Linked DNA regions of Homo sapiens. The protein of the gene in region 5 purifies or fractionates together with the protein of the main gene of each other region. This does not show direct contact. Each region holds a gene or a part of one and is shown on either strand. Other genes may lie near its edges.

What was found.
Region 1: the proteins of ARID2 (region 5) and SS18L1 purify together in Homo sapiens (affinity purification with mass spectrometry, with the first as the bait; one large-scale study listed by BioGRID). This does not show direct contact.
Region 2: the proteins of ARID2 (region 5) and FAM120A fractionate together in Homo sapiens (co-fractionation; one large-scale study listed by BioGRID). This does not show direct contact.
Region 3: the proteins of ARID2 (region 5) and DCAF4 purify together in Homo sapiens (co-immunoprecipitation; one large-scale study listed by IntAct). This does not show direct contact.
Region 4: the proteins of ARID2 (region 5) and BICRA purify together in Homo sapiens (affinity purification with mass spectrometry, with the first as the bait; one large-scale study listed by BioGRID). This does not show direct contact.
Region 6: the proteins of ARID2 (region 5) and PHF10 purify together in Homo sapiens (affinity purification with mass spectrometry; one large-scale study listed by BioGRID and IntAct). This does not show direct contact.
Region 7: the proteins of ARID2 (region 5) and RAB3GAP2 fractionate together in Homo sapiens (co-fractionation; one large-scale study listed by BioGRID). This does not show direct contact.

Annotation. Positions count from the first base shown.
Region 1 is NC_000020.11:62,171,269-62,174,768, forward strand, and holds part of SS18L1 (calcium-responsive transactivator), read left to right. Parts: intron 1-1,413; coding exon 1,414-1,533; intron 1,534-3,248; coding exon 3,249-3,376; coding exon of another isoform or gene 3,377-3,463; exon of another isoform or gene 3,464-3,500. UniProt on the Homo sapiens protein: Transcriptional activator which is required for calcium-dependent dendritic growth and branching in cortical neurons. Recruits CREB-binding protein (CREBBP) to nuclear bodies.
Region 2 is NC_000009.12:93,556,185-93,559,684, reverse strand, and holds part of FAM120A (constitutive coactivator of PPAR-gamma-like protein 1), read right to left. Parts: exon of another isoform or gene 3,327-3,500; intron 3,304-3,326; coding exon 3,094-3,303; intron 1,859-3,093; coding exon 1,675-1,858; intron 1,105-1,674; coding exon 967-1,104; intron 1-966. UniProt on the Homo sapiens protein: Component of the oxidative stress-induced survival signaling. May regulate the activation of SRC family protein kinases. May act as a scaffolding protein enabling SRC family protein kinases to phosphorylate and activate PI3-kinase.
Region 3 is NC_000014.9:72,950,464-72,953,963, reverse strand, and holds part of DCAF4 (DDB1- and CUL4-associated factor 4), read right to left. Parts: intron 2,167-3,500; coding exon 2,087-2,166; intron 1-2,086. UniProt on the Homo sapiens protein: May function as a substrate receptor for CUL4-DDB1 E3 ubiquitin-protein ligase complex.
Region 4 is NC_000019.10:47,615,634-47,619,133, reverse strand, and holds part of BICRA (BRD4-interacting chromatin-remodeling complex-associated protein), read right to left. Parts: intron 1-3,500. UniProt on the Homo sapiens protein: Component of SWI/SNF chromatin remodeling subcomplex GBAF that carries out key enzymatic activities, changing chromatin structure by altering DNA-histone contacts within a nucleosome in an ATP-dependent manner.
Region 5 is NC_000012.12:45,732,706-45,736,205, reverse strand, and holds part of ARID2 (AT-rich interactive domain-containing protein 2), read right to left. Parts: intron 1-3,500. UniProt on the Homo sapiens protein: Involved in transcriptional activation and repression of select genes by chromatin remodeling (alteration of DNA-nucleosome topology). Required for the stability of the SWI/SNF chromatin remodeling complex SWI/SNF-B (PBAF).
Region 6 is NC_000006.12:169,707,501-169,711,000, forward strand, and holds part of PHF10 (PHD finger protein 10), read right to left. Parts: intron 2,892-3,500; coding exon 2,736-2,891; intron 1-2,735. UniProt on the Homo sapiens protein: Involved in transcription activity regulation by chromatin remodeling. Belongs to the neural progenitors-specific chromatin remodeling complex (npBAF complex) and is required for the proliferation of neural progenitors.
Region 7 is NC_000001.11:220,147,793-220,150,453, forward strand, and holds the end of RAB3GAP2 (rab3 GTPase-activating protein non-catalytic subunit), read right to left. Parts: 3' UTR 501-2,661; downstream 1-500. UniProt on the Homo sapiens protein: Regulatory subunit of the Rab3 GTPase-activating (Rab3GAP) complex composed of RAB3GAP1 and RAB3GAP2, which has GTPase-activating protein (GAP) activity towards various Rab3 subfamily members (RAB3A, RAB3B, RAB3C and RAB3D), RAB5A and RAB43, and guanine nucleotide exchange factor (GEF) activity towards RAB18.

The DNA.
Region 1 (3,500 bases), on a different chromosome or scaffold from region 5:
CCCCAAAAGCCTGACACCCTTGAAAACCCACTCCCCCATGTCTCAGATGGCTTTCATGGGGGCAGGAGAAAGGATAGTGACCTTAAGTCTTCTCCCGTGACGGTGACAGCTCGTTTGCCAGCTGTTGCTGGAACCGGCCCTGGATTTAGAGGAAGGCGTGGAAGTTCAAGACTCAAGATACTTCCTGGATAGAGAATAACTGGAAAGGCTCAAGTAAGTTTTTCCGAAGCTCTCGCCTTAGGAGGAGTTCAGCCTGGAATAAGAGCGTGTGTTAGTTTTGTCATCCCACCTAACTACAGATTGAATTACCCTGATAGGTTTTTAAGCCATTCCAGTGTGCATTATCTCAATAAAGCTGTTATTTAAAAAAAATACTAGATTGCAGTTTTAAAATACTTAAATTTTACAGCTTCTAAAAAAGGAAAGTTATTTCCAACCAGAAAAGTAAAGTAGAAAATGGATTCTTTGCGCAGAGCATGGTGGCTTACGCCTGTAATCCCAGCACTTTGGAAGGCAGGGGCAGCAGGATTGCTTGAGGCCAAGAGTTCGAGACCAGCCTGGGCAACATAGAGAGACCCTGTCTCTACAAAAGATTTAAAATTACCTGGGCATGGTCGGGCACCGTGGCTCACGCCTGTAATCCTAGCACTTTAGGAGGCCAAGGTGAACGGATCACAAGGTCAGGAGATCGAGACCATCCTGGCTAACATGGTGAAACTTCATCTCTACTAAAAATACAAAAAATTAGCCTGGCGTTGTGGCGGGCACCTGTAGTCCCAGCTACTCGGGAGGCTGAGGCAGGAGAATGGCGTGAACCCGGGTGGGGCGGAGCTTGCACTGAGCTGAGATCTCGCCACTGCACTCCAGCCTGGGCAACAGAGCGAAACTCCATCTCAAAAAAAAAAAAAAATTATCTGGGCACGCTGGCACACACTGTAGTCCTAGCTACTTGGGAGGCTGAAGTGAGAGGAACACTTGAGCCAGGGAGATGGAGGCTGCAGTGTGCCCTCATTGCACCACTGCACTCCAGCCTGGGTCCCAGAGCGAGGCCCTGTCTCTGAAAAAAAAAAAAAAAATTATATCTGCAAAGACCCTATGTCCAAATAAGGTTCCATTCACAGGTACTTGGAGTTAGGACATCAGCATCTCTCTGGGGAGCACATTTGACCCGCGACGCTGGCGTTCATCTCTGTCTTAGTTGTCATATTAACCATTTCGTTTCTTAGCTTTCCATTTGTATTTCTATAAGATAAAGGTGTAGTATAGTATTTGAATGGTTGTGAAAAAATAAACATGCCGAAGCAATGGATTTGGTTTTGGGATTCCAAAGTTACCGTGTCGTGAGTGGGCCACAGAATGAGCCCCCTTAGCCCAGGTGGGGAAAGTCATTTCTGTGTCTCCTCCTCCCTCCAGGAAACTCCCAGTACAGCCAGCAGCAGGCCGGGTACCAGCAGGGTGCCGCGCAGCAGCAGACGTACTCCCAGCAGCAGTACCCCAGCCAGCAGAGCTACCCCGGGCAGCAGCAGGGCTACGGTAAGAGGCGAGCACGGTCCTCGGGGCCCCCCAGCGCCCACCCCTGCCCCTGCCACACATGGGTACGTGCTCAGTACCCCAGCCAGCAGAGCTACCCTGGGCAGCAGCAGGGCTACGGTAAGAGGCGAGCACGCTCCTCGGGGCCCCCCAGCGCCCACCCCTGCCCCTGCCACATGTGGGTACGTGCCCGGTGACCCTGGTGCTCAGGCAGATGTGTAATAAACTTATTTTGAATACCTTTAGGTTTCCAGAAAAGTTGGAAACATCCATGCACGTAGACCTGAAACATCTTATTTTAACTTAAACATAAATTCATTGCCCACGTGGCCTGTGACGGGAGCCAGTGTCCCGTGTATCCATCACCTGCACGCCTCAGGCCCAGCTTCAACCTCTTTGACAGAGCAGGTCAAAGCCTGTGGGTCTCAGCCTTCACTGCAGCTTACAATCACCCAGGAAACTTCTGAAAAATAAGGTGTGGGCTGCCCCAGGTCTTTTGTTGGAGCAAGATCTCAGTTCTCAGGATGAGCTCCACACACGTGGTTTCTTATGAGGCACGTGCCTGATTCTGCTGTGCTTATTCAGCCCTTTACAGCCATTACTAATTAAATAGTATAAAAATTACTTGAGGCCAGGCGTGGTGGCTCACGCCTATAATCCCAGCACTTTGGGAGGCTGAGGTGGGCGGATGACCTGAGGTCAGGGGTTCAAGACCAGCCTGACCAATATGGTGAAACCTCGTCTCTACTAAAAATACAAAAATTAGCTGGGCATGGTGGTGGGGGCCTATAGTCCCAGCTACTCAGGAGATGAGACAGGAGAATTGCTTGAACCAGGAGGTAGAGGTCGCAGTGAGCCGAGATCACACCACTACACTTCAGCCTAGGCGATAGAGTGAGACGACTCCTCAAAAAATAAAAAAATAAATTACTTGAGGCTCAGTGTGGTGGCTCATGTCTATAATCCCAGCACTTTGGGAGGCTGAGGCAGGAGGATTGCTTGAGCCCAGGAGTTCGAGACCAGCCTGGATGACATAGTGAGACCATCTCTACAAAAAATACAAAAATTAGCCAGGCATGGTGGCACACTCCTGTGGTCCCAGCTACTTGGGAGGCTGAGGCAGGAGAATCACTTGAGCCTGGGAGGTGGAGGTTGCGGTGAGCCAAGATCACGCCACTGCACTCCAGCCTGGCTTGGGTGACAGAGTGACACCCTGCCTAAAAAAAAAAAAAAAAATTGGCCTCTATCAGTTCTTGCCGGAGCCTTTGACTTAGCCTTCCTAGAGACGATGTCTCTGTCTCACCTGCCTGCAGGTTTTCAGCAGCTCCCGTGGTAGTTCAGTGACAAGTTACAGCAGCCAGTGTGACTGGGGCCAGCGGGTTCTGGAGGGCTGTCCTGCCTTCAGGTAGCAGCAGTTCTGGGGTGATGGAGAGAGCCCATCAGCCCTCGCCATGCTGGTGGGGGGCCTGGGGCACAGTCCTGGGACCTCACAGGACTGGAGGGGCTGGTGAGTCGGTTACGTGGTGCTCTCGCTGTACAGAGTTAACGTGGAGCCACGTGCAGGTGCCAGGTGTTCTGGAGATTGACAAAAGGCTGATGCATTGAGACGGGAATTTTTCAAGGAGAAGAGGAAGTTTTAAAAAAAATTTTTAAGTTAAGAAAAAAAAAGAAAGAGGTGTCCGTTTTGGCCGGCCTCACGGTTCCTGGTGTCTTCTCAGGGTCTGCCCAGGGAGCCCCGTCACAGTACCCCGGCTACCAGCAAGGCCAAGGCCAGCAGTACGGAAGCTACCGAGCACCGCAGACAGCGCCGTCTGCCCAGCAGCAGCGGCCCTACGGCTATGAACAGGCAAGCTTTCTGGATGTTTCCAGATGTGCCCATCCGCCGCGCCTGTCGAGACATAATGAAGATTTCTCTTATGGCCATGAGGAATAATGAGCTGGAACTAACTGGCTTCCAGGGTTCCTTCCAG
Region 2 (3,500 bases), on a different chromosome or scaffold from region 5:
GAGAGGAAACATGGCTGCGAGCTGCATGAGGAGCAGTCACAGAGCAGAGTAGCACACTGCAGGAGGCTGGTGGGCAGACAGAGGAGGCAGAGAGGCATGCAGCTGCACCAGGGAAAGGAGAGGTGACCTGCAGACAGAGGGGCTGACCCGTCGCCAAATCTGCAAGTCACCTTTCCGCACAGTTCCCTTGCTGGCCTCCCTAACTATCCCATGTAACTGAGTTGGAAAAACATTGTTGATCAAGAGAGAAAGGCTTGCCCATCCTCAATGCAACTCCAAAATCACATCTGAACAGTTAATCCTGTTATGTGACTTGATGGGCAGATTTAGATCTGCAGTCCCAAAATGTGGGATTAGGACAAAGATACAGGTCACTGACTTCCAATTACAGCACCATCACAAGACATTGCTTCCTATGCTAAATGTTAAGACCCTTTTCTCTTTTGCAAGCCTAATACAAATGCAAAGAGAAGCACTGGGAATCTACAGTAAACTGCCTTGTTTATATGCCCAACATTAGATCTTTGTTTAAAAATGTTTCTGCGAAACAAACTGTGACAGACTTTTTATGTCAGGAATTCTGTGACCATTAGCATTTTCTATACAAGCATGATAATCTTTACCAAAAGATGGCTGCTTGGGAAAGAAACGCCACTATTAGCAGCTCATCCTATGAACACGAGGCGATGGTCAGGTTACCCAGGTGCACAGAAAGGTTCTGTTCTAGGTGGACACTCAGTGGTCTACCCTGAAAGGAGAGACTGGCCACAGCAGAGCCGCTGCTGAGACCTGAGAGCAGAGAGTCTCAGGAGGAGTGGTCAATGAGGGTCAGAGCGGGGACCCAGAAGAAAGGCCGTTCTGCTGGAGGAGGGGCTCATGAGGACAGTAGAGGAAGGAAGGCGCCAGACGATGGAGCGAAGGAAGTGCTGGCAGGCAGAAGCTCTGGGAAGGGGTGGGTATAATTACCGCCCTGGGACTTGCTAGTCCTGCTGCTGTCACTGCCTGAGAAGGCTCCGCAGTGTCCCGATGCTGCCGCCACACGGAAGGCACGGTAAGGGCCTGTTGCTACCGTTTCCCCATAGGGGCCTCCAAAGCCACAGACGCCTGTGGGACCCGGGGTAGAGAGAGAGGGGAGAAGTGTAAGGGACAGGACTCAGGGCCCTGCTGGGTATTCAGGCAGAGTGGCCCCTGCCTCCTCCAGCTGCCATGGAGGGGTCTCCTGGCCCCTCTTGTCACCTCACTGTCCTGTGCCCATGGTCCCTGGGGACCAGTATTGTAAGGCCACCCTCCCTGCAGTGGGTCATTCAACAGGGCACTAGCATGGGGCTCAGGAAGGGCCCTGGGAGATGAGTCCTGGAAGATGGCTCTCTCTGACCTGGGTGGGTTTATTTTCCCTTACACATGAGAAACAAATATATCTTAAAATGTGAGCAGAGTTTTCAGCTTGATTGACAGATTTTACGGTGCAGCTTTTGCATCTGCATCAGCAGGTCCCTCTCCCCTATCTCCAGGATTAAACTTGCTCCTCACGGACTTGAAGAACTGCTGCTGCAGGATCTCCAAGACCAACAGTGACAAGGTCAACACAGCAGATGGGCTTGCCTATAAGGGCTGCACTTTCTTTACAGGAATCTGGCATCTGTTACCCACAGGAATACGTCCCAATCAACTCACCTGCAAAGCCTCTGCCCCTGCCCTGAGAGGGTGGGACAGGCCCAAAGTGCCGGGGGTACGCAGAGGCAGGGTAGAAGGGCAGGGCAGGTGGCGGCGGGAAAGGGAGCGTGTGGCTCTGCCTGGAGAAGCTGAGCCCCTCGAGGACGCTCTGGCGCATCTTCTCTACCTTGGCAGCCTGATCAGCCTGGAAGACAAGGACCAGCATGTGAAAATGCCATCCACAGGGGGTTTTAATTGAATTTAAATGAGCACTAAAGAAATAAGATCTATCAACTATACAGTTGGTTCCCTTTATTCATGAATTCTATGTCTGCAAATTCTCCTACTTGCTAACGTTTATTTGTAACCACAAAAATCAATACTTATGGCAGTTTTCTGGTCGTCTGCAGACTTGTGCAGAACACGGCAAAGATTTTTGTTGCCTGATGCACTGACCCCAGCTGAGGTCAAACAAGACAACGCTTGCCTTCTTGTTTCAGCTCATACTGAAAACAAGAATCCTTTTCACAGTTTATTAAGTGCCACGTGTTTCACATTTTTGTCCTTTTTTGTTGGTAATTTCACTGTTTAAAATGGTCCCTGGCTGGGTGCAACAGCTCACGCCTGTAATCCCAGCACTTTGGGAGGCCAAGGTGGGTGGATTGCTTGAGGTCAGGAGTTCAAGACCAGCCTGACCAACATAGCAAAACACCGTCTCTACTAAAAATACAAAAATTAGCTGGGCATGGTGGCAGGCACCTGTAATTCCAGCTACTAGGGAGGCTAAAGCAGGAGAATCACTTGAACCTGGGAGGTGGAGGTTACAGTGAGCTGAGACCGCACCACTGCACTCCAGCCTGGGCGACAAGAGCGAAACTCCATCTCAAAAAAAAAAAAAAAAAAACCAAAACAAACAAACAAATAAAATGGTCTCCAAGTGTAGTGCTGAAGTGCTGTCTGGTGTTCCTAAATGCATAAGGAGGCTGTGATGTGCCTTACAGAGAATATACGTGTTACAGAAGCTACTGGCTGTGAGTTCAATAATAATGAATCAACAATCCATATTATATAAGGTGTCTTTAACGAAAATGCACATGAAATAAGATTATATACTGATTGGTTAACAAAAATATGTGACCAGAGCCTTGAAGGAACCCAGCACCTTGTATTGCCCCTAGGAGCAATGGTCAGTATTCACTAATTTGGCGTTCAAGGTGAATTTTAGAACATTACTACCACAAATAATGAGAAACAATGTTATATCAGGAGCTTGGCTCATCCTGGGTACTGAAGTGATATTTAGTGACACTCAGTACCAGGCCCAACCTAAAACAGAATCTTGAAACACAGGATGATAAATATGGTATAAAAGATGACAGATTTAACCAGTGAGCTTTATTTCATTGCAGTTAAAGGCAGCCACCCGGCCCCGCAGCATACCTGACCATCACAGAGGTCAATGAGTGGGGTCTTTTCCCGGCTGGCTTTGAGGAGTTTGGATTGGAAGAGCTTCCCATCAAAATACATCCAAGGACAACAGTGTTCCCAGGGGATTGGCTGTCCGCATGCATCATTTGCAAACAAGGCCATGTCTACTCCACTCATGAAGAGAGCTGATAGCTGAATTCCTCGGGGATCTAGGTTCTCAATCTTTAAATTGAAAAGAGTAATTTCTATGGAATAAGAGTACTACAGTATTAAATTCTTTCAAAGTCTTAGTAAAACTCTCCAAAGTTAACAGAATATTCCTCAACAAAACAGCACCACTAAGTAGTCCTACCATTACCTTATATTGACCTAACACTGGCCTCATTTGAACAGAAATACTTATGTGATTTAACACATTT
Region 3 (3,500 bases), on a different chromosome or scaffold from region 5:
TAACGTTCCCAGTAGTCGTGTTTACAGTACGAATAGTACTGATATCAGGGAGGTAGTATACTGTTGGAGGTAAGGTGGCTCCGATCCTCGATCACCTACCAGCTATGTGATCTCAGGCAAGTGTGTGTGTATATACACACACACACACACACACACACACACACACACACACACACACACAAATAAATAAATAAATAAACTATATATATATATATATATATATATATATATTTTTTTTTTTTTTTTTTTTTTTTAAGACAGGGTCTTGTTCTTTTGCCCAGTCTGGAGTGCAGTGGCGTGATCATGGCTCAATGCATCCTCAACCTCCCAGGCTCAAGGAATCCTCCCATCTCAGCCTCCCAAGTAGCTGGGATCACAGGTGTGAGCCACCACACATGGCTAATTATTTATTTTTTGTAGAGATTGGAGTCTTGCTATGTTGCTCAGGCTGGTCTTGAACTCCTGGGCTCAAACGATTATCCTGCCTTGGCCTCCCAAAGTGTTGAGATTACAGGCATGAGCCACTGTGCTTCGAAAAAATATTTTTTAAAATAAACTTTTGCATTGATAGAACGTACAGATTGTAAGGATACAGTTCAGTGAGTTATCACAAACTAAATATAGCCATGTACCCACCACCCAGGTTAAGAAATAAAACAATCCATGCCAGGCGTGGTGGCTCACGCCTGTAATCCCAGCACTTTAGGAGGCCGAAGCGGGTGGATCACCTGAGGTCGGGAGTTCGAGACCAGCCTGACCAACATGGAGAATCCCATCTCTACTAAAAATACAAAAATCAGCCGGGTGTGGTGGTACATGCCTGTAATCCTGGCTACTTGGGAGGCTGAGGCAGGAGAATCGCTTGAGCCCCAGAGGCGGAGGTTGCGGTGAACTGAGATCGTGTCATTGCACTCCAGCCTGGGCAACAAGAGTGAAACTCCATCTCAAAAAAAAAAAAAAAAAAAAAAAAAGGCCGGGCATTGTGGCTCACACCTGTAATCCCAGCACTTTGGGAGGCCGAGGCAGGTGGATCACGAGGTCAGGAGTTCGAGACCAGCCTAACCAACATGGTGAAATCCCGTCTCTACTAAAAATACAAAAATTAGCCGGGCGTGGTGGTGTGCGCCTGTGATCTCAGCTACTTGGGAGGCTGAGGCAGGAGCATTGCTTGAACCTGGGAGGCGGAGGTTGTGGTGAGCTGAGATCGTGCCATTGCACTCCAGCCTGGGCAATAAGAGCAAAACTCCGTCTCAAAAAAAAAAAAAAAAAAAAGACAAGACAAGACATAAAACAATCCAGTACCCCAGAGGCCTCCCTCACATCCCTTTCCCAATTACTACCTCCCCAAAGGGTACTGTGAGCCTGACCTCCAACACTAAAAATTACTTTTGTAAGACAAATTCTGAAACTGTCTGCCTCAGTTTCCTTATCTGTAAAATGGTGGTAAGACACACTCCTGCCTCATAAGCTTGCTGTGCAATGAAATACCAGGCACTGGGCTAAATGTGCATGATCTCACCTAATTCTCCACGGATGTGGACTGAGAAGGCCCTGTCCACTTTAGAGAGGTTCAACATTCCATTCAAGTTGGCAAGGGGCAGAGCTGGGATTCGTGCCAGGTCTGCCTGAAGCCCACACTCTTAAGAGGCCTCTCACCCTGGTCTTATTGATCCTAATTTTCTGATAGACTGAAATGTAATATCCAGAATGCTGTCAGGAAGGAGGAGTCAAATTGCCTTAACGTAGGCAGACTGTTAAGTATCCCTGATAGCACCTGAGGTGCTTTGGACCTTCAGAGGTGTTTTCTGAATGATGTGCACGGGCGTCCGAATCTGTTCTGAGCTCACGCTGGTTTACATGCGTGTTAAGTCTGCTCTGGCTGCTGAAATGACTGAAATGGCCCAAGATGGGTAAAAAGGGGCAGATGCTGTAAAAAAAACACATGCTTCTGGTACTAACCCTGGGACAGGCTTAGGGAATCCTCCCACAGTGCCTCTGCAGCGGCCCCATACTTCTCTCTAAGCCACCCCCACACAGCTCTCGGGAGACAGAGGACAGATTTCTTTAAAGGAGGAGAACCCTGTACCTGGGTGACTATTGACGAACAGTGATGCTGGGAGCAGGGTGGCACAGCCTGGAGTCTCTGCGAGTCCCATGAGGCATAGCCTGGAAAAAGCTGTTAAGGACAGTTAGGCACAAGGCTCCCCTCTGGGAGGAGGCATGGACATTTACCCTTCAGAAAGTCATACGGCACACAACCTAGGCCAGAGTAACCCCCACCGTCCAGATTCAACATGCGTTTACACTGCCCACATTTACCTTCAGATGTTTTTTTTTTGTTTGTTTGTTTTTGAGACGGAGTTTCGCTCTTGTTGCCCAGGCTGGGGTGCAATGGCGCGATCTCGGCTTACCGCAACCTCTGCCTCCCAGGTTCAAGCGATTCTCCTGCCTCGGCTTCCTGAGTAGCTGGGATTACAGGCATGTGCCACCACGCCCGGGTAATTTTGTATTTTTAGTAGAGACGGGGTTTCTCCAAGTTGGTCAGACTCGTCTCGAACACCCGACCTCACGTGATCCGCCCGCCTCGGCCTCCCAAAGTGCTGGGATTATAGGGGTGAGCCATCGTGACTGGCCAGCTTCAGATGTTTTTTAAAGGGAAAAACAAATCAGATATAGTTAAAAGCTGGGTGTGGTGGCTCCTGCCTATGTAATCCCAGCACTTTGGGAAGCTGAGGCAGGAGGATCACTCGAGTCCAGGAGTTCGAGACCAGCCTGGGAAACACAGCAAAACCTTGTCTCTACAAAAAATACAAAAACTAGCTGGGCGTGGTGGTGTGTGCCTGTAGTACCAGCTCCTTGGGAGGCTGAGGTGGGAGGATTGCTTGAGCCTTGGAAGTCAAGGCTGCGGTGAGCTGTGATCATGTGACCGCACTCCAGCCTGGGTGACAGAGTAAGACCATGTCTCAAAAATAAAATACTATTAAAAAGCCCAAAAAGCCCTCTCTGATCCCTCCCTAGTCCAATTCTCCCTTCTCCTCTACTCAGAGAGAACTGCTCTTCTCAAATTGGTGTAAGTTCTTCTAAGCCATGCTGTATTTCCACTACATATATTTGTCAATAAATAACACAAAGCAGCTTTTGTTTAAAAAAAAACATACAGAAATGGCATTGCATGGAATATCTCACTACCAGCCCTTAAAATTTCTGCTTATCTGAATGGGTACCAGGTGATACCTCACTGTTATTTAAATTTGCATTTCCCTGACTACATGTGGGTGTCTCTGTTCACATGAGCATAGTCGTTGGAGTTCCCTCTCTGACCTGCCCCTTTATACCCTTGCCTACGTGTGTGTCTTTTGACTGACGCGGTTCCTCTCCTTTTCCCCTCATAGCCAAACTTTGTTCCAGAGGAGCCTGTATTTATTCTCATTCCCTTGCCTTTCCTCCACTGAAATCCAGGCCTGACCCTCACCTTCCCAGAGAAATGTTCTCATCAGTCT
Region 4 (3,500 bases), on a different chromosome or scaffold from region 5:
GCGCACGTTCTAGGGAGAGAAATTCCGCAGTACAGCAAGAGCTTGCTAAGCTGTGAGCTCAGACTTCTCCCAGGGAGAACTCCCGCACCCAGGCCGGGCGCCAAGTGTCTGAGGTCAATGAGACACTATGCGTGCCAGGTGATGGAGGTTATAGTCCAGCTAACTGTCACAGCCACCCTGTGAGGCAGGCGCTGTGGACATCTGCCCGCCCAGCCTCACACGGTGGACGAGAGTTGGCATCCAGCCTCTGGAAAGGTGGCTCCGGGGAGCTTCACCTGCAGGTGTCCCTGGACACTGGGCCATCCTCTGCCTCCAGGCAGCAGAGGCCACCAGGCGCTCCCTCAAGGACCCCAAGGGTCTTTAGCAAGGGTCTCACAGCCTCAGACAGATATTCCCGCTCACTCCGTTCCCAAGGTTACCAGGCTGGGACACAGAGGACATAAGAGGCTGAGAGGGGCCACGCTGAAGTTGGCAGCCCCCTAAACAGGCAAGCACTTCAAAGGGAGAGTGCAGAGGGACAGGGTGGGCATGGCAAGGGAATGAAGGTAGCGGGGCCGGGCTGGGGGGTCAAGGGGCATCAACCCTTCCTCTGCAATCCTAGAAACAGCATTTTTGTCCCCAACCTCAAGAGTATACACAGAAGCAATAACAACACTAACAATAGTGACCGTTTACTCTGAGCCAGGCACTTGCAAAACATCTTTTCCACGCTAGACCTTATTTAACAATAAGGTCATCCAAATAAGTATTTATTATCTCTCCTGTACTTCCAGTTCTCTAACCTGGACTAAAGGAGGGAAATAGCTTGCCACCAAGTCACAGGGTTAGAAGGAGCAGAAACAGGACTTTAACCCACACAGCTGACCCAGTTGCCCATCACCTCCAGGGTCATCCTAGGGGTCCATCCCCTGCTGCCAGCCCCACTTCAACTCTTCCTTTATGAGGACGATTTCTGCACAGAGTAACAGAACCTGTACCCCACACTGCATGCACCCAGGTGTGACCCCCAAACCTGTGTAATCAGAAACAACCCACAGGGTTTGAGGCTTGGTGTGGCCAAGACAGGGAATTCACCACAGTCCCAAAAAGGGGATCACAGAAAAAGGACCACCTGATCAAAGCCCACTCCCTGCTGCCTCAGTTTCCCAACCTATGAAATGGGCCTAATGCCACTTTCTTCATAGAACAGGACAGACTCTGGAGGTGCTGAAACAAATTCTGGATCCCAGAAATAACACCACCATTAATAACAATAATAATACAATGGAAATGATATGATATCTGGAATTTGCTTTAAAATACCTTGGCAAAAAAGAAAAAATATATGTGCACAGTAGGTAATGGCCAAAAAAAAAAGATCAGATCAGCAGAAAATTTTTGCAGAAGCTGGTGATGGTTACACAGGGGTGGTTGTGCTATTTTCTCAACTCTCGGTGAGTGCTTTAAAATTTCCTTAACAAAAAGTTAAAAAGGCCAGGTGCATAGCTCATGCTTGTAATCCCAGCACTTTGGGGGGCCTAGGTGAGCAGATCACCTGAGTTCAGGAGTTCGAGACCAGCCTGGCCAACATGGTGAAACCCCTTCTCTACTAAAAATACAACAATTAGCCGTGTGTGGTGGCAGGCACCTGTAATTCCAGCTACTCGGGAGACTGAGGCACGAGAACTGCTGGAGCCTGGGAGGCGGAGGTTGCAGTGAGCCGATATGGCGCCACTACACTCCAGTCTGGGTGACACAGTGAGAGCCTGTCTCAAAAAAATAAAAAATATAAGTTAAAATAACAATAAATAAATCTGCCAAGCCGAGTCTAGATGGCAAAAAAAAAGAAAAAAGAAAACAAAATAATAATAAACAAAGACGGCCAGGTGCAGTTGCTCATGCCTATAATCCCAGGACTTTGGGAGGCCAAAGTCGGAGGACTGTTGAGCCCAGAAGTTGGAGACCAGCCTGAGCAATATAGCAAGACCTTGTCTCTATAAAATAAAATAAAATATTTAAAAATAATAGGCCTGGTATGGTGGCTCATGTTTGTAATCCCAGCACTTTGGGAAGCTGAGGCGGGTGGATTGCTTGAGTCCAGGAGTTCGAGACTAGCCTGGCCAACATGGCCAAACACCAGCTCTACAAAATATACAAAATTAGCTGGGTGTCGTGGCCCACATCTGTAGCCATAGCTACTCGGGAGGCTGAGACATAAGAATCACTTGAACCTGGGAGGCGGAGGTTGCAGTGAGCCAAGATCACACCACTGTACTCCAGCCTGGGCGCAGAGAGAGATTCTTGTCTCAAAAAAAAAAAATTAATAAAAATAAAAGATAATAAGAATCAAAGTGAAGCTTCACTGAGCATTCCTGAGAGCCAGGTCCTATCCTAAAAAGCTTCCCAAGTCTTCACTCATTGAAGCGTCACAACACCCAAAGCGGGGAAGCTCTGTTACAGAAGAGGAAATTGTGGCCCAGTGGGTATTTGGGCATTGTCTTCCTTTTTTTTTTTTTGAGACAGAGTCTTGCTCTGTCGCCCTGGCTGGAGTGCAATCGTGCGATCTCAGCTCACTGCAACCTCCGCCTCCCAGTTTCAAGCGATTCTCATGCCTCAGCCTCCTGAGTAGCTGGGATTACAAGCATGCGCCACCACGCCTGGCTAATTTTTTTGTATTTTTAGTAGAGACAGGGCTTCACCATGTTGGCCAGGCTGGTCTCGAACTCCTGACCTCAAGTGATCCGCCTGCCTTGGCCTCCCAAAGTGCTGGGATTACAGGCATGAGCCACCAATGCCAGCCCTGTGCCTTCCATTTAAAATGCCAACACTGATTGCCTAGGGTTTGGGGGAAAGGCCATAGCAACTTGGGTATCTAATCCTATGGGAGACTCTGCTACTTAATAATAATTATTCCAATCACAGCCACTCACATTTTTTGGGCGCTTGCTATACCCCAGGCACTGTGCTGAACACTAAGCATGCCTGAGGTGGGTTTCCTCTCATGCCCACTCTTCCAGTTGGGGAAACTGAGGCACGGTACAGGGAAGCCCTGTGTGCCTCATGCCGGAGCAGCCTGCTGCGTGCCCTCTGCTGCCATGCAGTTTAGAATGCCAACATTGTTCCTTGTGTGCCTTTCAGGAAGACAATGGGGACCTTTCAGAGCGGAGGAGTCAGCATGAGTCCCGCAGGAGAACAGTAATCATAGTGAAAACAACAGCAGCATCATTTGCTAGTTCCTGAAAGCGACTGCCTGCCCAGCTTGGCAGAACATTGCTTCGTTCAGCCTCACAGCAGACCCTACGAGGGAGGCATCATGGGCCCATTTTATAGACAAGGAAACTGAGGCCATGCAAAGGAATTGCTTGCCCAGGGTCACACTGCAATTAAGCAGAGAAGCCAGCATTCCATCCAACACCTGCCAATTAAGGGGGTCACAGTCCCCAGGAGAAATAAACTGCCTAAGAATGACAGGTGACACCGACACTGACTGACAAGGCTACCTTGGCACTTTATGGGTGTTT
Region 5 (3,500 bases):
TTTTGTATTTTTAGTAGAGACAGGGTTTCACTGTGTTAGCCAGACTGGTCTTGGTCTCCTGACCTTGTGATTCGCCTGCCTTGGCCTCCCAAAGTGTTGGGATTACAGGGCGTGAGCCACCACGCCCGGCCACAATATACTTGTCTATCAAAGACGTTATAGATTTCACACGATCAACTATGAAAATACTGAATCCACAACAAAGCAGAGATAGGATTATGAAAGAGTGCTTCTATTCAGGGACATTTTTAGTTAACAGCTAAGGTAGAAAATTTAACTGCAAAAAAAAAGCATATAAACATTTTTGGGAATTATAATGTTCTCATTTTGTATCCTCAGGAAAATTTGTAACCTCAGTGAAAACTATCTGTCTTAGAAAGAACTCAATTTATTTCTACTTTGGGCAATTTAAGCTCTAAAAACATGGATTCTAAGACATAACACTAACCTAGCTGAGCTTTGATAAGTCTTTCAACTTTCTCCACTTTCTGCTCTTCCTTTCAACAAGTCTGCATGTCCTTTAAAAACGTAACAGAATATCAGAAAATATCAAAATCAGGTTTTTTGTTTTTTAAAATGGATACACTGCCAGGCTCAGTGGCTCACTTTTGTATCCGAGCACTTTGGAAGGCTGAGGCACAGTGGCTCACTTTTGTATCCCAGCACTTTGGAAGGCTGAGGCGGGAGGATACCTTGAAGCCAGGCATTCAAGACAAGCATGGGCAACAAAGCAAGACCCCTGTCTACACACACACACACACACACACACACACACACACACACACACGATACAGTTTATAAAGTTAAATTTGAAATACATGCATGAATAACTTATTGATATATTTGTCTTCCAATCTCCATATACTTTTATTTTCCTTCCTTGAATAAGAAGGGCAATCAGTTTATTCAGTTCCGTTTAGCAATTTACAAACTCAGTGCTTATATACCTAAGGCTTTCTCTTAAAAGAATTGATCTATATGGTGGACACTAACTAGAGAACACATGAGTGTATTCATTCAATTTAACTAACAAATGTAAACTCCCTCAAATGGTGTAATTTAAGAAAGAGCTTTACCCACCAAGAAAAAAAAAATAGAATAAATTCACAATGCGATTGAAAATGTACTATGGTAAACATAACTCTACAATTAAGTTTCTGACTATTCTAAAGGTAGGTACATATAAATAGAAATGAATATTTCAGTGCCAGAAAACTAGTAACATATAGTTTTGTACAATAAATTTTTAATGTCCAAGATATTTCACCCCCTTTCCAAAAAAATCAAGTTTTATAAAGGAAACATCAAGTTAACCTTGACTATAGCTGTAATATTGGCATCAGTAAGCAAAAACAAAATTTTAAAATATTTGAAATATTTACCTAAATCTTCATACCAAAACTTCAAATTCTTAACCCAGATAAGACCAGCAAACTGTCCCCCAATTTCAACAACAAAACAGAACAAAAAATTAAAATCCACCAAGTAAATATGGAACACATTAGGCAAAGAGATACTTGGGCATAAATTTAACCATAAGTAATTTCCAAATATTATTGAACACGTCATGAACACAACATTTTGGTCCAATTAATGAAATGTTCCCTAAGCCATTTAATTTTTTTTTTTTTTGCACTTTAATATCTCCATCTACAAAATGTGGGAAACTATACCTTATCCTTTCATACTATAGGAATATCCTAATAATAAACATTGGTGGAACACATTGAGATGTACATGCCAAGAAAAGGAACTACATGAAAATAAAGTGCATAAACATCACAGATGATTAGTATCCAATTTTTAATTTATTTATTTTATTTTATTTTATTTTTTTGAGAAAGAGTCTCACTCTGTCGGCCAGACTAGAGTGCAGTAGCACGATCTCCGCTCACTGCAACCTCCGACTCCCGGGCTCAAGCAGTTCTCCTGCATCAGCCTCCCAAGTAGCTGGGATTACAGGCATGAGCCACCATGCCAGGCTAATTTTTCTATTTTTGGTAGACACGGGGTTTCACCATGTTGGCCAGGCTGGTCTCAAACTCCTGACCTCAGGTAATCCGTCTGCCTCGGCCTCCCAAAGTGCTGAGATTACAGGCGTGAGCCACCGCACCTGGCCTCCAATTTTTAAATAGACTGCTTTTACACATTATCTGTAAGCACTTTACTTTTTTTTAATTTTTAATTTTTGTGGGTACACAGTACGTGTATATATTTCTGGAGTAGGTGAGAAACTTTGATACAGGCAGGCACTTATATTTGTAAAAATTAAATGCCAATGTTAAAATAATCAATTGCATTTTCAATTTTAGACTCTAAGAAATTTTTGTAGACAAGCTATAACTGAATAAATGTATATTTGAGAAAATTAAGTTAATGTCTGGCAGACCATTAATACTCAAGTCTATATTTAATGACTGTCAATATTTGTATCAAAAATAACAAAACACTATTAAAATATACATGGCCAGCATACTAGCTTGCTCTTCCTAATTTAAATTATCTGTAATATTATGAAGATATATCATAAAACACTAGGCTAACAGCCATCCATCCAATTAATAGCAAACTTACAGGGGAATGTGAGCAAATATTAAACTTGTAAAGGAGGAATAACACATATAATGACAGTCTTACAATAGGTCAAATGAAAAAGCAGTTCATATTAAAAAATTATTCCACTTGTAATTTAAAAAACACACTGCATTATCTGCTCATCAGTAATGATGATATTCAATCTGACGTAGCAAAGAGGTAACTTATCAAGTCACTCGATTACTATTTCTTACTATGAAGAGCCAATCTTATGGGTAGGTAATAGAATTGCTGTTACTTGGCATCTTGTCTGCCAATTAAGATTTTTCAGAGGAAGGTGTAAAAGCTAGCATCATATATATCCTCTTACTGTGCAATATTAGACCACCAGGAAAAAATTCTTTCAAGGTTGGTAGTACCTAAGTTTTGACCAGCATATTTCTTTTGTATTTCTTTACAAGCCATGCAAATCTTCACATGGTTTTATTTTCCAAAACAAATGCTTCAACTTTTTTCCTAGTAGCCTAGCTACAACCCTGCAAAAACAAACCTAGAGAGTGACATATGGAGGAAAAACAAGTTTAACTAAGGACATAGTTCAAAAAGCAGCTTCTAATAAGAGCAAAAAGCCCAATTTGATCTGAAGACCATGTAAATACTTACAATGTTGAAACTATATAGTTAAAAACAGTACCTATAATTAATGATATCCTCCCAAGATAAAAATGACAACTGGAAAAACAATATTTATAATTAACTTTTGTTAAAAAAAATTGGAAGCCTAGATATTAATTTGATTATGCTAAAACTATTAGTATGAATGTAAACTCTTCAGAAAAATATACATCTCATGAATCATGTATATTCTATAGTACTTTCTGGTTATAAAACTTAAGTCAATCAATCTAACAAATATGAAGCAAAACTTCAAAAATATGTATTTCAAACAGTCCAAAATTCAAATG
Region 6 (3,500 bases), on a different chromosome or scaffold from region 5:
ACTAATAGTTTAAGTTAGATACTGGCATAGTAAATACTCTAATATCTTTCACTAAAGTCAGGGAAGTAACCAAACAATATTAAATTCTAAAAACAGAACTCCTCACAGGAGATTCTTTACAAAACAAAAGCCAAAAGGAGTAAAACACAAGGGTAGTCATTCACATTCTAGAGCAATTCAAGTTCTACAATCATTAAAATATACATTAAACACCTATGATAAAAGGGACACCAAAAAATTCTAGGTTTATTTCTAAGTTTAAATCATAATGATTTGTTAAATCACTTAGTTTTTCTTACCCAACAGCCTTCATCTTGATGAAAAGAGGGAAACATGAGAGAAGGGGAAGAGAGACAGCTTTGTAGCATTTTCTACGATGAATGCTGCAGCTCGATATACAAAGCATCTGCCCTCTCTAAGAAGCCACAGTGCTGGCATCCAGGACTTTACACAGCAGATAACAACTGTGGCTTAGAGAAGCCAGTCTCAAGTGGATTGCACAGTTGAGGGAGGGGTTAATGTGCAGCACTCTCCACAAGACCAATGGAGCACACTCCTATGTGTGTCTGGTTTAGACAATCAGTTCTACTTCAAATAACTGCAACATCATCAGAGTATCACTATTGACAAGAAAACTGAAATACTCATCCTAATAGCTCTCAGCATCTCAAATAAAAGGCTCACAGTACACTTACTTTTCTACTTGAAAAACAGCCAAAGATAAGACTTTCATGGTAGCAATAATATAGTATAGATTTTAATTATTGTATTTATAGGCCGGAATCCTAATAATTATGCTTTAAATTTCAGGTTAATGTAACCTAAACAATACTGTTCTATGAATTAAGGGCAAGCACTAGTGAATCTTATTAAGCAAAGCATCAGATACATTACTTCCTTGAATCTCGTACTTTTTATATATAAACTATGACCTTTAGCTTGAAGTACCCTAATATTTAGGCACATCTTGGTTTATTAATACTTTTTATAAAGAGGTTAACTTTTAATAAGCATGTTCACATTAATGTATGATGACTAGATACTGGTTGTTCCCATCTTTGAAATACCTGAAACATTTTTAGGTACTAAAAATGTTCACAGATTATGTAAAATATAAATTTTGCATATCCTACTTGAGTACTATTAAGTTCAGTTAATCCATATGATTTCTTGTATACTAAATCAATGATAGTGTTGAATAGCTGATTTCCAGCCTGTATTAAAACATCTATTTCAATATTCTCTCTTTTTAACCCATGATCAATCAAGCTTACTGTTGCAAAGATCTACTTAGCACTCAAGAGTTAACAGGACACTGTGCTTTGAGCGGCCACTTCCATTTAAAGCTCTTAGCAGACCAGTAGAACACACTCATTCATGTATACTGCTTCTGAAATTTCATCTTTGGAGCTCACTTGCTTTCAGTTATTAAGCATTAATTTATATAAAGAAATTACATAAGCTATATATGTAAAAACAAGTACAAAAATCACATAGCTGCAGCCTATTGCAGCCACCCTTGGAAGCCAACCCTTGCTGAATTAAGCTTAAAATTTGCTTGCTATAGGCTACAAAAAAAAAAAAGAATTTTTAAGTTAATTACATAAAAGCATTTCCTAATAAAATATGAAATACACTAACTTAATGTCGCTTTTTTTACTTGAAGAAAGGTAAATGAACATGTTAGAACGTGTTCTAGTTAGTTTGAGGGAAAGGTGACTTACTTCAGCCTGTTCTTGTGAATTATTTACCACAATCACAGTTCTGACATACAAGGTGTTTAACAATTTCACTTGGCAAAACTTTCTCATCAGCTTACTCTAAAATTTTCCTTCAATACACCTTCATAAGTGCAATAAAAGCATGTTCTAATACATTTCAGACCAAAAGAATCAAAAGGTAGTCTATTTTACTACCACCATCCCAAATATGAAACTGTACAGCTAATTCTTCCTTTTATGATATTCTTAAATCCCTATATGCAAATAAGGCTACTCATCTCTCACCTCACCTTTTCTTCAGAAGAAAAGGGAGGGGCAGACAGAGGGAGGAAAAGTTCAAAATATAATAATAGTTGCTGACAACCTACTCCTTTACTCTGAGGATAATCAGATCAACAAGTTAACAAGTATGTTTTAATTCTTGCCATAGAATCATATAGGCTCTTTACCAAGGTTATGCTAAAAATCACTACAATGTAAGTAACAGGTTTTATTATTTTCTATCCCAGAGTTAGCTAAATTTAGCATATGGATCAAATAATCCTTAGATTAAACCCAGATCTTTCTTAATGAAAGGCACTAAAAAAAATGCAACTTAGTCTAACAGTATATCCACTCATACTTTATAGCTCAGCAGCTTTAGCTACACTAAATGCTGGGGCATTTAAAATGCCAAATAATTATGATCTTTACTCCAAGGAAAGAAAATATAAACTTCTGCCTATGAAATAATGTTTTAAAAACCCATACTTGCCTGGTTATTCTTTCAAAGAAAAAAAAAGACTTATAAATTGTACATATACAGAAAACAGAAGGTAAACCATAGCCAAAAGTGACAGAAAAGCCACCAAGGAAATAAAGCAAAAAAGAAAGCAGCGGACAAAGGGCACACCATAGAAGAACAGCTAGTGAGGTACAGCAGGCAGAAGCTCCACAATCGTGAAAGTCAAGTTAAAATATTTCAGGGAGAGGCTGGTCAGTAAAGAAGCTGAGTCAGGGGCTTTTTTCTTCTACCTTGTACCCAGGAACTGACTTGGACAGTACAGAACGTTTGGGACCATCTTTTCTTGGAGTGGCAGCTTTGTCTTTTGATTTCTGTCTTCCCTGGAAAGAGTCCTCCTGGCTGTCAGGAGGGCTTTCCCCTTCAGATACATTGCCAGAGGAGCTGTCCTGGAGTTTAAAAGGCAAAAACAAAGATTCTTTGGAATTAAGACAAATTTGAGTCTGGATTTTGAAAACTATGGAAAATATTCAAAGAAAGTTTTAAAGCTTTATCATTTTAAAAATAAAAAGATCATTCTAAATGTAAGAAAGCTTTTTCCAGTGGAGACTAAAGTAAGTTATGTTAAAAATCATTCCTCCTTCTTCTAAGTATATTATATAAAACTGATTCCATATCAGTGCCTTCATCAACTTTGTTTTCTGACATAAGTCACAAAAACACAATTATCCGCTTCAGCTACTATTACGGCACACAGCTTCAACATCATTTTCCGTCACAAGGGAACATATTTGTTTCATACAAAAATATATTGTTACAAATAAGTGTGGGTATTTTCACTGAGTACTAAAAGTCATTAAGAAGGTCCTTCAGGAAAAATGAAGCGCTGCAGTTAGGAAAAAAAAAAAAAAGTCCTTCAAGTACACATTTGTGTTTTCACAATGTTAAACTATGCAGAGCCAATCCCTCAACTATCTACAACAGGATCTGAAATATTTTATATATTCAAGGTTTAAGACCTCAGTATCTGATCATTTAATTCTTCATTTTATAATTTA
Region 7 (2,661 bases), on a different chromosome or scaffold from region 5:
TTTCCTGTAACTATAGAAAGAATTATGTATATATACATGCAGAAATATATATGTGTGTGTGTATCTGTGGATGGATATATGTATATCTCTTCCTATATATATCCATAGTGGACTTATTCAGAACATAGATATGTATTCAGCTTGTCTTCAAATACGGCCAAGCAGAAAATGTTTTATATTTTATAAATCATCTTTTGACTCTGTATTTAAATTCTATGATACTGAAAATAAAGGCATTCTGGAAAAATACTGACTGATTTTGGTGCAGAAGTTTTGAGTATCAAGTAAAAGAAGTATAGTTTTGAAAGGGAATGGCGGAGGCCTGTTTCCCTTAAGAGGTGAAGGGTCATTTCATTCTTCCCATTAGTGAACATCAGCCTTTTCAGAATAGCTAGTTTTTGGGGTTGGATCAGAAAGAATATAATCACCAAATTTGTTACTCAAGAAAGGAAGAAATCTCTTAATAGTTAGTTATACTTATGAATGTTTAGGAAACAACATGAAAGCTGAAAATTTATTTCACTAATATACATAAGAAGTTCACAACAATGAACAGACAGAAAATAGCAGTATATACAGAATTTCACTACTTACAGTACATTACAATAGAGAAAGCATTTTATAAACAGTTCAGTATTGGATTAAAATCTTTTAAGGATGGCTAATTCTATTCAGCAGGAATCTAACTTCTAGACACCCAGCAAACCCATTCCTATCAGGGTGAGAGAGGGCTTTTGCTGTTGCTATAGTGTACTGTAAAAATATTTGTTCCTTATAAATGAAGTGGACCACAGCAACTTCTAAATGAACATTATATTCAGTGTAAGTCTCATATTATTAAATTTCAGATTTTTGACTTTTTAGATCGCAATTGTTTTTAAAAAGCAATTTAAATGTAACAGTGTTTACTTTGACCATAGATGAAGTTTTATAATAAAAGTAAAACTTTTTTTTTCTGTTTGCAAAAGTATGAAGCATTAAGAAGCATGGTGCTATATATCTCTTTATCTACATTTACCCTGGCCCCTCTAGTTCTGCATCTAAACAGAACCTGTAATGTAGAAGTTATGATTATTTGAACACTTTTTGTTTTCCTTCAGCATTATACAATATAATTTAATAAGATACAAATGCATATTTAATGTTTGTTAATGAAGAAAGTTGTGTGAGGGTGGGCATATATCTAGGAAAACACTACTGGTTACTGGCTTCTCATCAATAACTACAAAGTACCACATACCTTTGTTTCAGAAACCACCCATTCTACATTAAAATCTAATTCCTTTATCATCTATGGCTCTTTGTTATTATAGAATGTCTACATAGGTATTTATTTGCCTTTCTTCCTATCAATCAGATTTATTTATTTTAAAAGCCCTTGATAAGTAGTAAAATATTTAACTGCTTTTCTTAACCATACAAGTCAGAATTAGATTTTAAAATTCTATGAAAAATTTTAGGATAACAAATCTAACTAGAGACTTAATGATTTGTGTTAGGATTCTGTGAGCCATACTTCAGCTTATTATTGTTCTCAGCAATCCCCAGATTTGATTGTCTGTTCTACCAGAGTAAGCTTAACCAGTTTTATTATCTAAAATGCTTAATAAGTGCCCCCTCCCCGCCAAGTGATGATGGAATTGAGGATTTATTCTTTAAAAATACCTATAACTCCAAGTTTCTTTGACTAGCCTCCTTAAGTTCATACTACTACTTTCAGCGTACTTGGAAAAATCACAGGAAGAACTAATCTCTTAGAAAACATATAACAAGTGACTGTTAACACAGAGCCAGATATGTTTACAAGAATTCTAGGATGTGTGTGGCTGGGGCAGCGGAGACCCAAGCAGAGGCTGGGAGGTTGGACTAGCCCTTTCCAGTGCTGCTACTCTGTAAAATGTATGTCTCAATCAGACTCACAGGCCCCCATCCCAAATACTCAAGACATCTTAACCATTTATCTTGTAAGATTTCAAGTTTGATAGTTACTTAACAGTAATTACTAAATTTTAGCCAGTTAAATTCTTGTTTGGATGTGCTCTTTTAGCTCAAAAAACAGATTTGTTTTTCTTTTTATATCCCTGAAGGACATACTCCTCAACTTTGCATGATTACTATAGTTGGCTTCTTAAGGGGAAGTGAAGAAACAAACTTCTGTATCACAATGACTTACTATGAATAATAATTGTGATCCATGACAGATACCCATAATTACACTGTATGGCTACATTCTAAAAATATACCACAATAAATACTTGGTATTTGTAGAGCTCAAAGCACTCTTTTACAGAGTTTTGGTTAGTTTGGTTTTTTCTTTTTTTTTTTTTTTTCGAGACAGGGTCTTGCTATATTGCCCAGAATGGCCTCAAACTCCTGGGCTCAAGCGATCCTCCTCCAGCCTCCCGAGTAGCTATAGTTTGGTTTTAATCAGTAAATATTTATTTAGCACTTGGACTGCTCTAGGCACTATAGGGTACAAAATTAGTTGTATTTTATCCTCTCATCCCAGCTGTGAGGTAGGTTTGCTAAAGCTGTAATACCACTAAGCAGTTTTTTCAATACTGTTCCCAAGGACAGATAATATTAGCAAATCCCAGAAGCATTTCTAAACACTTGTAGGAAAAATAAAGTCGGACTTAAAATTTTTAGTATCTTTGCCTT